Linked DNA regions of Homo sapiens: region 2 is linked to region 1. A link means that fine-mapping ties the variant in region 1 to the expression of a gene that starts in the linked region. Tissue or cell type: prefrontal cortex. Region 1 holds a variant in brackets; the other region holds the start of a gene. All regions are shown on one strand. Distances are from middle to middle.

Region 1 (5,377 bases):
CATCTGCCTTTCCTTAGAAAGGTAAGTTTATTCTTTAGAGAGATGGTCATTTGTTCAAATTGCATATCCAAGTGCTTCTCTCAAAAATTAGCTATTTTTTAAAAAGAAAGATCTGAAACCTATGCCAAGTCTATTTCCGCTCCTTTATTTTTGTTTTAGATGATTCCATTAAGAACACAATTGCTTTATGTAAAAGTTTACCTAGAGCAGCAGGTTTGTGGCATAATAAAAACCTATCTTCCTGAATATAGTGATGGGTTCAAGACGATAAAACAACAGCCATGTGCATACACGATGCTTCTCCAACAGCTGAGTGCCCAGTGAGACTTGGGGGCTGAAAACCACCTTGTAGCGTGTGATGTGGCACTCATCTCCCAAACAGGAGCAGAGCTTGGCTCCCTAACAAGAGGCTGGGAGCAGAGTAGTGCAGTGCTAACCCGTTACAATGACTCAGCTACACTCTTCCACATTCTAGAGCAATTTTTCCTATGCCAAATTCTTTGGGGAAAAAAATAGAGTTCTCTATTTTTTTCTCTAGAGTTGCTTCTGAGATGGAAGTGGGAAGAAAAGAGAGAGAAGTTGGAGGGGGCAGTGTAGGGGAGAAATACGTCTTTAGTGCAAAGGATTTAAGTGTGGTCCATAATCTTACATCACATCAGCCTGTAATGAAAAGTTGATATGTGAGCAAAGCAACCAGTCTGAATTACAAATTGGGTCAAAAAGCTTCACCAAAAACCATGAATGTCCTTAGCCATGCCTTACTTTGGCCTAGAACTGTATCTTGCTAAGTTTACAGAGCATGACACTTAACTTCCTGGAGTAAAGATTTTCAGATTTGGTTTTCCCTGTTTTTGGTCTGCAAAGAATAGTCTAATCTACAAATCAAAGCAGAAGAGTGACAGCAGATGAGGTGGCAGACTGAGGGGACAGTAGCAGAGTAGACAAGGGGAGACAGGACACCTCCAATAGGTAGTGAGTGACAAGCCTGGGTTGTGCCAGGTACTGTGCTTAGGTACTTTTATCATTTTACGTAAGTCTCCAGAAGACCCTGTGGGCATGCTTTTGTCACCCCTACAGCAGAGAATGAGCCTCTAAGCCTTAAAGAAATTGCTCAGAAAATCTGCCACCCAACAAGTAAGTGGCAGGGTTGAAATGTAAATTTAGTTCTAACATCCAAGCTGAGTTATTTCCATCTAATAGGGCCTTTCCTTCCAAAGACCACAGCACAATTTCTCAGCTGGAGTGTGAAGTATAATCAAAGCGATGGCCAGAACTTTCTCTCCTTCTAGACGTCTCTTGTGTCTTCCCTGGTAGATGCTGGTTGTAGCTTTATGTCTGCTTTTTATCAAAATGGCTTAGATAAAATATATTGCCCACATTTTTGTTACTTACTTAGATAAAATCCAAATTATGCATCACCTTTTGCCTCCAGGGCTTTTTCCTTTCATGTTGTCTTCTCCTCCCACCTCCCTTCTTTCCTTCTCTCCCTCTTTTACATTTTAAACAAGATGCCCCTAATATGGAAATCTGAAAGTTTGGGACTTCTCTCTTTCTGCTCTTAGGAAGAAGATAAAGTGTTCACCATCCCCATAGCTAATTTATAATCCACTAACACAGGACCTTTACTCACCTCTTCCACTCAGTTGAAAGAACATGCTTTTGAATCTACAAATAATAATGGGCCATTTCCATGCTTTAAAACTTTTAGTGGCTCCTCATTCTATTCAGGGTGCTCAATCTAGGCAGTGGGTCAGAATCACCCACAGGACTCTTGTAAAAAAAAAAAATTATTGACAGCTTCATGTCCAAGATTCTAATGCAGAACCCAGGCAACTGTATTTTATTAAAGCTGCAACTATGTCTCAGTCGTCACTAAGCTATTGTCTCTGGACTCCAAACCCACACAACCTAATTCGCACTTTGCTTTCTGGTGTTGAAGCTGAGGCTCTGCATGCCACATTTCTGCTTTGCTAGCTTAGTCCAAGATAGGCTCTGCCTATAGGGGCACCAGATAAGGGACTGGTTCCTTCTGTTTGTTTCCCTTGGCCTCCTGTCCCCATTAATGCTTCTTCACCAGGCAGCAGCACTTCCTTCCCACATCAGCAACTGAACCCAGTTTAGAGATTTTCCAACATTTCATGCAAGTAAAACCAGCTTCATCTCAACATTCTACTCCAGCCAGCTGGCACTCCCTCCTCAGAAGTCTGAATTTCAGCTCCACATAGCCCCTCCTCTAAGTTTTAATAATTCTACTCTCATCCCATTGTTCCCCGACCCTAGAGGTGGTGGTATCATCTAGTAGGTGGCATTGTCACAATAACTTAGAATTCTCTTTTTGCCATTCAGTTACCTAGTTAATAGTTCTTTATATTTAATCCTCTATTTTCAAATAACTGGTATGGTTTATGCCTCCTGATGAGACCTTGACTGATACAAGATGTGTTCCTGATGAGCTGCCAAGTGTGGGAACTCAGCTTTCAGCCCACCCTAGATTTCTCAGACAGAGCTAGAGGGCAGTGCACTTACTGCCCCAGAGCATATAATACTTTAAAAACATTAACAGAGGTGTTTATATAGATATACACACATATATACATATACATATACATACACATATACACACACTATAGTAGGATACATCTGGGCATGTATACACCACAGTGGTATAAGTGTGTGTGTGTGTGTGTGTGTGTGTGTGTGTGTGTGTGTATTTGTGTGTCTTACCCACTAGATTAGAGTTCCTCAACCTTCACACTCCTGACATTTGGGGTCAGGTGATTATTTGCTTTGGAGGCTGTTCTATGCACTGTAGGATGTACAGCAGCATCCCTGGCCTCTACCTGCTAGATGGCAGTGGCACCCTTCATTCTCTGATTGTGACAATGAAGCATGTCTCCAGACATTGCCAAATGTCCCCTGGGAAACAAAATCACCTCCAGTTGAGAACTAGAGTACTAGGCCAATGATTCCTCAAACCACAGTCCAGGAATGCGCATTTTTAATAACTTTCCTGGATGAATTAAATGCCTCTGTCCAAGGCACTGTGCTTTGCCAAATGCTTCACTGGCATGAGCTTCCAGTAAGTAAGACTTAAAGCTTATTTATCTTATTCATTCCCCCAGCAGCTAGCACACATCATAGCTTCTAACATGTGCTCAAGACAAGTGTTCTGAAGGATGAAGCCCATTTTTCAAGTGGAACAGTTCTCAGTGAGAGAAGAACAGGCCTCAATTCACTTCCCTGGTGGCTGGAAGCCACTTTTCTTCAGGCTTGTGAAGGAAGAGGTCAGCGAGAAACAGTGCGGGTGGAGACAGAGCTGTGATCAGAGCTGACAGGGTAGAACTGTGCTTCTCCAAGGAGTCTGTGCTGAAACCAATGCAGGCTTTATCATAAAAATTTGTGAGGATCTTGGAAGCTTTCTGAC[C/T]CCCAAAACCTGGACATATGGCTACATATGAGTTTTGGTATCCAAGTGATGAAATAAAACTCAACTCTGATTCTATACATAGATATTCAAGAACATGTCAGCAAAGCTCGATGAAGACACTGATTTTATCCCATAAAAATAGCAAACAAAGACCCCTGAGAAAGGGTCTATGGGGCTGACAAAAACAAAAACCCTTTTGTACTTCACGACCTATTAAGAGAACTATGAACTAATGCCCTGTCTTGAGAACCAAGCCTGAAACAAATTCCTTTTATTTTGCATGCCAATTAATGTTTCTAAGTATAACTGCATTATTGTTATTATTGTTTATATTATTTTATTAAGTTTTCTATTGCTGCTATGATAAGTTACAAATGGAGTGTCTTAAAACAACACACACTTATTTTCTTACAGTCAGAAGTCTGGAATCAGTTTCATGGGGCTAAAATCCAGGTATCAGCAGGCTGCATTCCTTCTGGAGGCTCTAGAGAAGAATCTGTTTCCTTGCCTTCTCCAGCTTCCAGAGGCAGCCTGCCTTCCATGGCTGATGGCCCCCTCCTCCATCTTCAAAGCTATCAGTGCAGCACCTTCAGACCTCCCTCTGACTGTGCTCTCTGCTCATCATCACATCTCCTCCGACTCTGACCCTCCTGCTTCCCTTTTATAAGTACTATTGTAAGTGGGCAGCCCACCCAAAGAATCCAGGGTCACCTCTCCATCGCAAGGTCCTTAACTTAATCCTATCTGCAAAGTCTCTTGTGCCATGTAAGGTCACCTTCACAGGTTTTGGAGATTAGGACATGGACATCTTGGGGCCAGGGGATGCATTATTCTGCCTACCCTAATTATTATTAAATAAATGACATTTAATTTCTCTGTGTAGTCCCAAATGTCATATTTCAGGCCTAATGTGACTACAACACACCTCACCAAAAAAGCTAGTGTTTCTAATGCTTTCCTAAGGAAAAGATAGCCAAGAAGCTCGATTTAAATCCTGGTCTTATGGCTTGCGATCTGAGTAAGTTCACATCCACTTATTTTTTCTTCTTCCTGCACCCATGTCTAGTTAGAAGGTGAAATTCAAACCAGACAATCCAATGTTTTCGTCTTATTCGCCCTCTCCTTTTGTCATAGGCAAATTATAAGCGCTGATGGACAGCTTCAGGAGCAACTTTCGGTGTTAATGAAGTAAGAAAACTGTCTTTGTTGCCAACAGGTCTTTTCAGGGGCGCTATGCCAGTCTTGCTGGCCAGCACCAACCCCTTAAGTTGAAGTTCCCACTAAGCTGTGGGACTTGGCCAGGCACCCTCTGGCCCAGGCTACAGAGCCCTGCAGGGACATCAATGTCCTCTCATGGTCAGCTAGATGACTCCCAAAGAGTTTAACCATGTTTGCTATATTTCAAGATTCTTACAGAAAAATGCCTCAACCGGTCTCGGTGGAGGGGTTACAGAGCAGGCACTGTGAGGCCTCAGCCTGTGAATAGCACAGCTAGATGCCTTCTTTCTACAGCTGCACAAGTGAGCAGGTCCAGCCTGGCTATAGAGACAGTGTTAAACTTCAACTGCATACAGCGGCAGAGCCAAAGATCATAATTTCATAAAGCAAATATTAGATTATTAAATAAATACATGATGGAAATGTCTTTACCATAGTTCCACTAATCCCTTTTTTGTTTGTTTGTTTTTAAGAGACAACTTGTCTCTCTCACCCAGGCTAGAGTGCAGTGGCGCAATAATAGTTCACTGTGACCTCAAACTCTCAGCCTCAAGCAATCTTCGTGCCTCAGCCTCCCAAAGCACAATTACAGGTGTGAGCCCCACTGCCCAGCCACTAAACTCCATTTGAAAAGGGGATTTGGTTATTGTGTTTGCTTAAGTCTCATTTTTAAAGGTAAAATTGGCCTCATCTTCCCCTTGGAGTCCTTGATCTTAGCTCTTCCTGCCACTTAGC
Region 2 (5,377 bases), 130 kb after region 1:
AAGTGGTTACTTATTAGACTTATCATTAACTACTAAACTAAAATAAATGGAAACAAATTATTTTTTGAGTCTTCTAACCACTGATAGTGTTAACTAAGCAGCTGACAGCCAAGTGTCATTCTCTATTAAGGATGGAATTGTCCTTTCCGACTCATGCTTCCAAATCAGAAATAAAGACAGTATTTGAGGGTTTAGGGTATAACAGGCAAAGAAACCCGAGAAAGAAATCCAGAATTACATCTTGTCCTTATGTTTGTTTTTTGTGGCTGTCACCTCTCTTTCCCTTTGTCGCATACCTTATTCCTGACCTTCATACTTAAATCTTATCTCATCATTTTCCCACTGAGCTTAAATGACAGAACCAACGCAGAAAGTTTTGTTGTCCCAAGAATTTGGTTGTAGTAATCATTACTGGAAACAGACATTACAAACTGTCATTTCACCGAGACGTCATACAAAGCCTATCTGAAATTTACGTCTATAAGGATGATGTCAAAGATAAGAATTTCCAGCTGGATGAAATGGAAATTGCCAAAGTCCATAAAACTCAGAAATTAACTGGATTCAACTCACAAACTATGTACAGTTATGTGCAATTTTGTAATGATAAAGACAATTTGTAAGATCTGGTTATATTATCACATTTAATGGATTCACCTTATCAGAGAGAGCAGTTGAGTTCATATTACCTGATCTCCACACTTACCAAGCAGACACACATTATGCAAGGGTTGTCTGTGATAAATGGAATCTGGAGGACTTCACCTTCATTTTCACATTTTGCAACAGAACCTGAAATTCAGGGGGGAAAAATGTTTCATTTAAAGTTAGCTTAGCAGCATGATTTCAACATTTAAAATTTTTACACTAATCCTTTTTGAAACCTCTACCCAAACTTCAGAATTCTTAATGTGGTTTAAATTATTAAATTCACCAAAGCAAAACCTCTGCCCCCAACTCCATTTTCAATAATTTTATTTAAACAGGTTCAAAAAAGAAAAGACTATGATATAGGGATAAATTATCTGTTCTCAGATGGTCTAAGCACAATTCCAAGTATTTCACTGGATTTTTAATAACACTCCTCCTTTATGAAGATATTTCAACTAAGCACACAGCCCCATACGCAAAGAAAAAAATAAAAAATAAAATTTAAAAAAACCCTCAAATTGGGGCAGATTTTAAATTGACCAAAACTCAGAACTGAGTCAATAAACAGGCCTTTCTATGAATCTGTCTCGCATTGTCTTAGGTTTAAATCACTTTTTGAAACGCAATCCCCTTTTCCCTTCTCTTAGAAATTGACTCCATATTTTCTTTTCTGCACCAGGTGTCAGTAAAGTATGTCCTTCAGAATAGCAGCTGAGGTCTTCACCTGCCTGAAAACATATAATTATTATATCCGGCTATTAGTGCCCTTTTTAAATGATAGTTTCTTTAAATTCAAGGTCTTGAGAGCCAGTGCTTTAAAAAGCACTCCTAGCACAGTGGATGTATTGCAACCCCAAAGATGAGAAAGGAAGATGTGCGGAAAACTGCACAAATTTTTTTCCTGAGTTCTACAGAGGGAAAGATTAAAATAAAAGTTGAGGAAAGCATTAAAAATAAATAAAATAATTTCTCAAATTCAAATAGAAGAATGTCTATTATTACTACATTGAAGGCAACAGCCTCTCAGCCCGCAACCTCTTCACCAGCCTTCCCAGCCCTCCCGGGGCTTCGCTTCATCCCCATCGACCAGCGCAGGGCAAGCGCCAAGGTGCGCGCTCCCCACCCTCCCATCCCCGGGGCAAGCCAGCGCCACCTTTCCCAGGTACCAAACCGGCGTCCCGGAGGGCCGGTCCCTCCCGCCCCCTCCCCTACCTGTCAAGAAGGAGGAAGCCAGAGACATGGGGACCCCCGAGCAATTGAGTAGCAGCAAGACGCAGCACGTAATCCCAGGCGAGCGGCGGCAGTAACGCTCAGCCAGAGCCCCGACGCCGGAGAACCAGAGCATCGTCACCTGGAGGGAATCCCTGGCGACTGCAGGTCCCGCGCCGCCGCCTCTGCTCAGCTGCCGCAGCTCACAGTCGAAAAGGGCTCTCAGCCGGCGTGTCGGGAGACCGTCCGCGAAGGAGGGAGGCGGGCGCCCGAGAGCTGGGGGGCGGGGGGGTGTGAGGGAGGGCGGGGGGAGAGACCAAGGTGTGGGGGCGCCCGGGGAGGAGGGGTCCTGCGGCCAGGCTCCTCCGATGCGGCTTTTTTTTTTTTTTTCCTGAGGGAGTTGCTTGCAGTGGCTTAGCAGTCAGCCCCTCAGCGCCGGAGAGGGGGCCAGGAGGAAGGGGTGTTGCGGCAGCCGGAGATAGACTGAGAGGAGCTGCGGCGCTGCCGACTGCGCACTGCCGCTCAGCCGCCGCCCGGGCTGCCGCTACTGTTTCGGGGGCTGTCGCTGTCGCTGCCGCAGCGTCCTCCACTCCCGCACTCCTCACCTCCTGCCAGCCCCGCCGGCTCTCGGCCCTCCCGGAGCGCGCTCGCTCCGCCGCAACAGACGTGGGCTCACCGGGCGCCTCCCGGAACCCGCTGGGGGCGCCCGGGCGCAGGAGGGACTGCGCGATAGCTGCAGCGGGAACTCTCTCGGCCCAGCTTCCAGTTCCCCAGCCCCTCCAGGGAGGCCAGGGCCCCAGGGCGCGGACCAGAGCCGAGAAGGCGCGTCTCCACTGTCCGGGCGAGCGCGGCTCCTCCTCCCTTTCTTGGGGGAGCCCCGGGGATGCCGCAGCACTAGCGCTCAGGCCCGGGTGCCCCAATCCAGCGAGGGAGCAGCAAACGGGACGCAGGGGCGCCCCACCACCCTGCTCGCTCCCGGGTGCCCCACCTTTGGGAAGGAGCGACACACCCGGGGCAGTAGGGCCCCCGCAACTTTTCATGCCCTGCTTTGCTTCCCTCTGGCGGGGGCGCGACAGCGAACTCAGGGGGCTGAGCGGACAGAGGGGCAAGTGGCCTTAGAGATGTGTTCTGTGCTTAGCTGTCTGCGCGTCCTGACACTAGGGATGACCGAAGTTGAAACACACACAAGGTCGATTTAAAAACGTACCGAGGCAAACGCCTTTCGTCCTTAAAAAATGAACAGTCGCTCCGAGACTCCTCCCTTCCAATCTCGGGCGGACCGGGGCGGGGAGGTGGTGTTTGACTAATCATTCATTCACCCGAAAAGAGGGAGGAACCCCCGCCCCACCGCTCATCTCTGGCGGGGGCCGCCGCGCGGCGGCCTCTGCAGCTCGGAGCTCCGTCGCTCTCTCAGCCCGGCTGCGCCCTCTCGCCTCTGCAGCACTGGGTGTCGGGGAGTCAGCTCCTGTGATCCCCCTGCTGAATCGCCGCCTCCTCCCCACGCAGTGGCACCCTCTACTCAAAAGGGGTGCAATCGCAGAGAGATGATTTTTGTAACCAAAGTACGAAGGCGCGAGGTGGGAGTGAGGGACGCTTGGCAAGTGTTGGGACCTGACGATCAGCTAGCTGTCCTTGAGCTCACGGTGGACTACCGACTTCCTCTGTCCAAGAGTTGAAACCGGGTCCCCACGGAACGGACCTAAGGGTCTCCAGGCAAAGTGGGTTGTTTCCATTGTGGAAACTACAGCTTTGAAAATAAATGAGTCTGTTTGCTGACAGGTTTAATCTAGCTTCACCTTAACCCTTCCCTGCCTCGTTGACTGTTTATTCGTTTTTTCGAGTGATTTGGAGACTTCACTTAATTAGTGCAACATTGCCAACATCGCGACACACCGAGGAGCTGATGCGAGCACGTTGCTGTGACGTGGGAAAAATAAGAGAAGGGAAAACTGTCATTAGCTTAGCATGCTCCATTTCCCTCCCAAAATAGATTCTTACCGTAAAATTTAAATTGAAAGAGAAGGCTGATGTGTGATTCCTTCCCTCCCTCCCCCCACCCAAATAAAGCCATGGCCAGGCAGCTTCTCGGAAACCAGTGTGTTTATGTATTTACTAATCATAAAGATAATATGCAAAAAGAGAAAAATCTCTAAATCCAGCCTTACTTCCCAGGGACTCATTAAAAAATAAATAAAATTAAAATTAAAAATTAAATAAATAGAAACCTTTATTGCTGCAGATAAGTACAATCAGTTGGAACCACTATCTCCTCTATCTAAAAAGATTGTCCCTGGATGAGGCTTTTAGATAAAGTTGTTTATCATAATTTAATTATGGAAAGCTGAAGAATAAGGAAGCTGGGAGACCTTTTGTTGCCTTAGCCATAAATTTGGATAAATGCATGCTATGAAATTGCAAGACATTTGAAGGGTGTGCCTGAGTTACTTTGATATGCCTTCCCTCCCTGACACCAGCCAAACATCCTCAGAATTTGCATGACAAATTTCTTTATGATAGAATCTAGCTGTGTGTGGCATTTCCATAATGTGCAGCATGGTGCTTTGGAATGCACTGGAACTCTCCCTGTAGGTGCAAACCCAAAAACCACCTTAAAAACATTTTCATCTGTCTGAAAGTTTGCGAAGGGGAAAAATGCACAGAAGCCTTTGGCAAACCTGTCTCTTCTTCCTGTTTGTTATAAGCCTCTGCCACCAGCGATTTCCCTTGCTGCCTTCTTGGCAAATGGGCCCTGCTTCCGAAAGAGCAGCCTTTTCTCCAAGGCCTTATCAAGATGTTTTCCCATGCATCTACTGCTGCCATCACCCCTCAAGTGATAGTCTATCAGCTGACAACTGGTCTCTGTCTACACAAAACGGAGATATTCCAGGGTCAAAAAGAAAAAAGAATGCCTGCACTGAAAAGCACACAGATCTGCCTTCACAGTTTAACTAAATAAATAGTGGTACCATCCAAATCCCAAAATGGCTTTGGCTGAAATCAAAATGAGGGGAAAAAATGTGTATTTGGGTCTGCTTATGACATTTTTCAAGGGGAAAGAGGTGATGGGGCCCAAAGACCAATGTTTAACTCTGGGCCTGTCCCAGTCTCAATTAGACAAAACTCTGTCTCATCTCTTTCTCTGGAAAATAAACTGTGAAACCTAATCAGATTAAAAGGGGCCAGGCCTGCAGTAAGAGCAACTTTCTTCATCTCCTCTCAAAACTACGATGCTAAATTCTCACTGAAAAATTCAACTGAACATACAACTTAGTCACGTGGATTCAAGTCTGAAAGATGCTTCTAGAGAAATCACATCAACCCAGCTTCCTAAAAGTAGAAACCAATAGACCCTTCCCAAAGGAAACAGGGTAAAGAGATTGTGATACCTACCACTAGGGCAGGGTGCAAGGTATTTCATAAACTTGAGAAAGTTACACCTTAAAAAAGGCATTTACACTTGATAAAGATAAAGGATTATGCTACCAAGGATCTTACAGTCTAGTAAGGAGGATAAACT

Evidence for each region.
Region 2: BMPER starts here. The variant in region 1 is fine-mapped to the expression of BMPER in prefrontal cortex (CommonMind, PIP 0.95).

The regions. Positions count from the first base shown.
Region 1 is chr7:34,036,936-34,042,312 of GRCh38, reverse strand. All of the region lies in intron 6 of BMPER (BMP binding endothelial regulator), which reads right to left. Among named protein-coding and RNA genes, the nearest start is that of BMPER, 130 kb to the right of the region's middle. The variant C/T (reference allele first, on the strand shown) is at 3,425.
Region 2 is chr7:33,902,233-33,907,609 of GRCh38, reverse strand. It overlaps BMPER (BMP binding endothelial regulator), which reads right to left and starts at 2,071. Exons shown (of 15, transcript NM_001365308.1): 1 at 1,864-2,071; 2 at 707-792. The coding sequence starts at 1,996.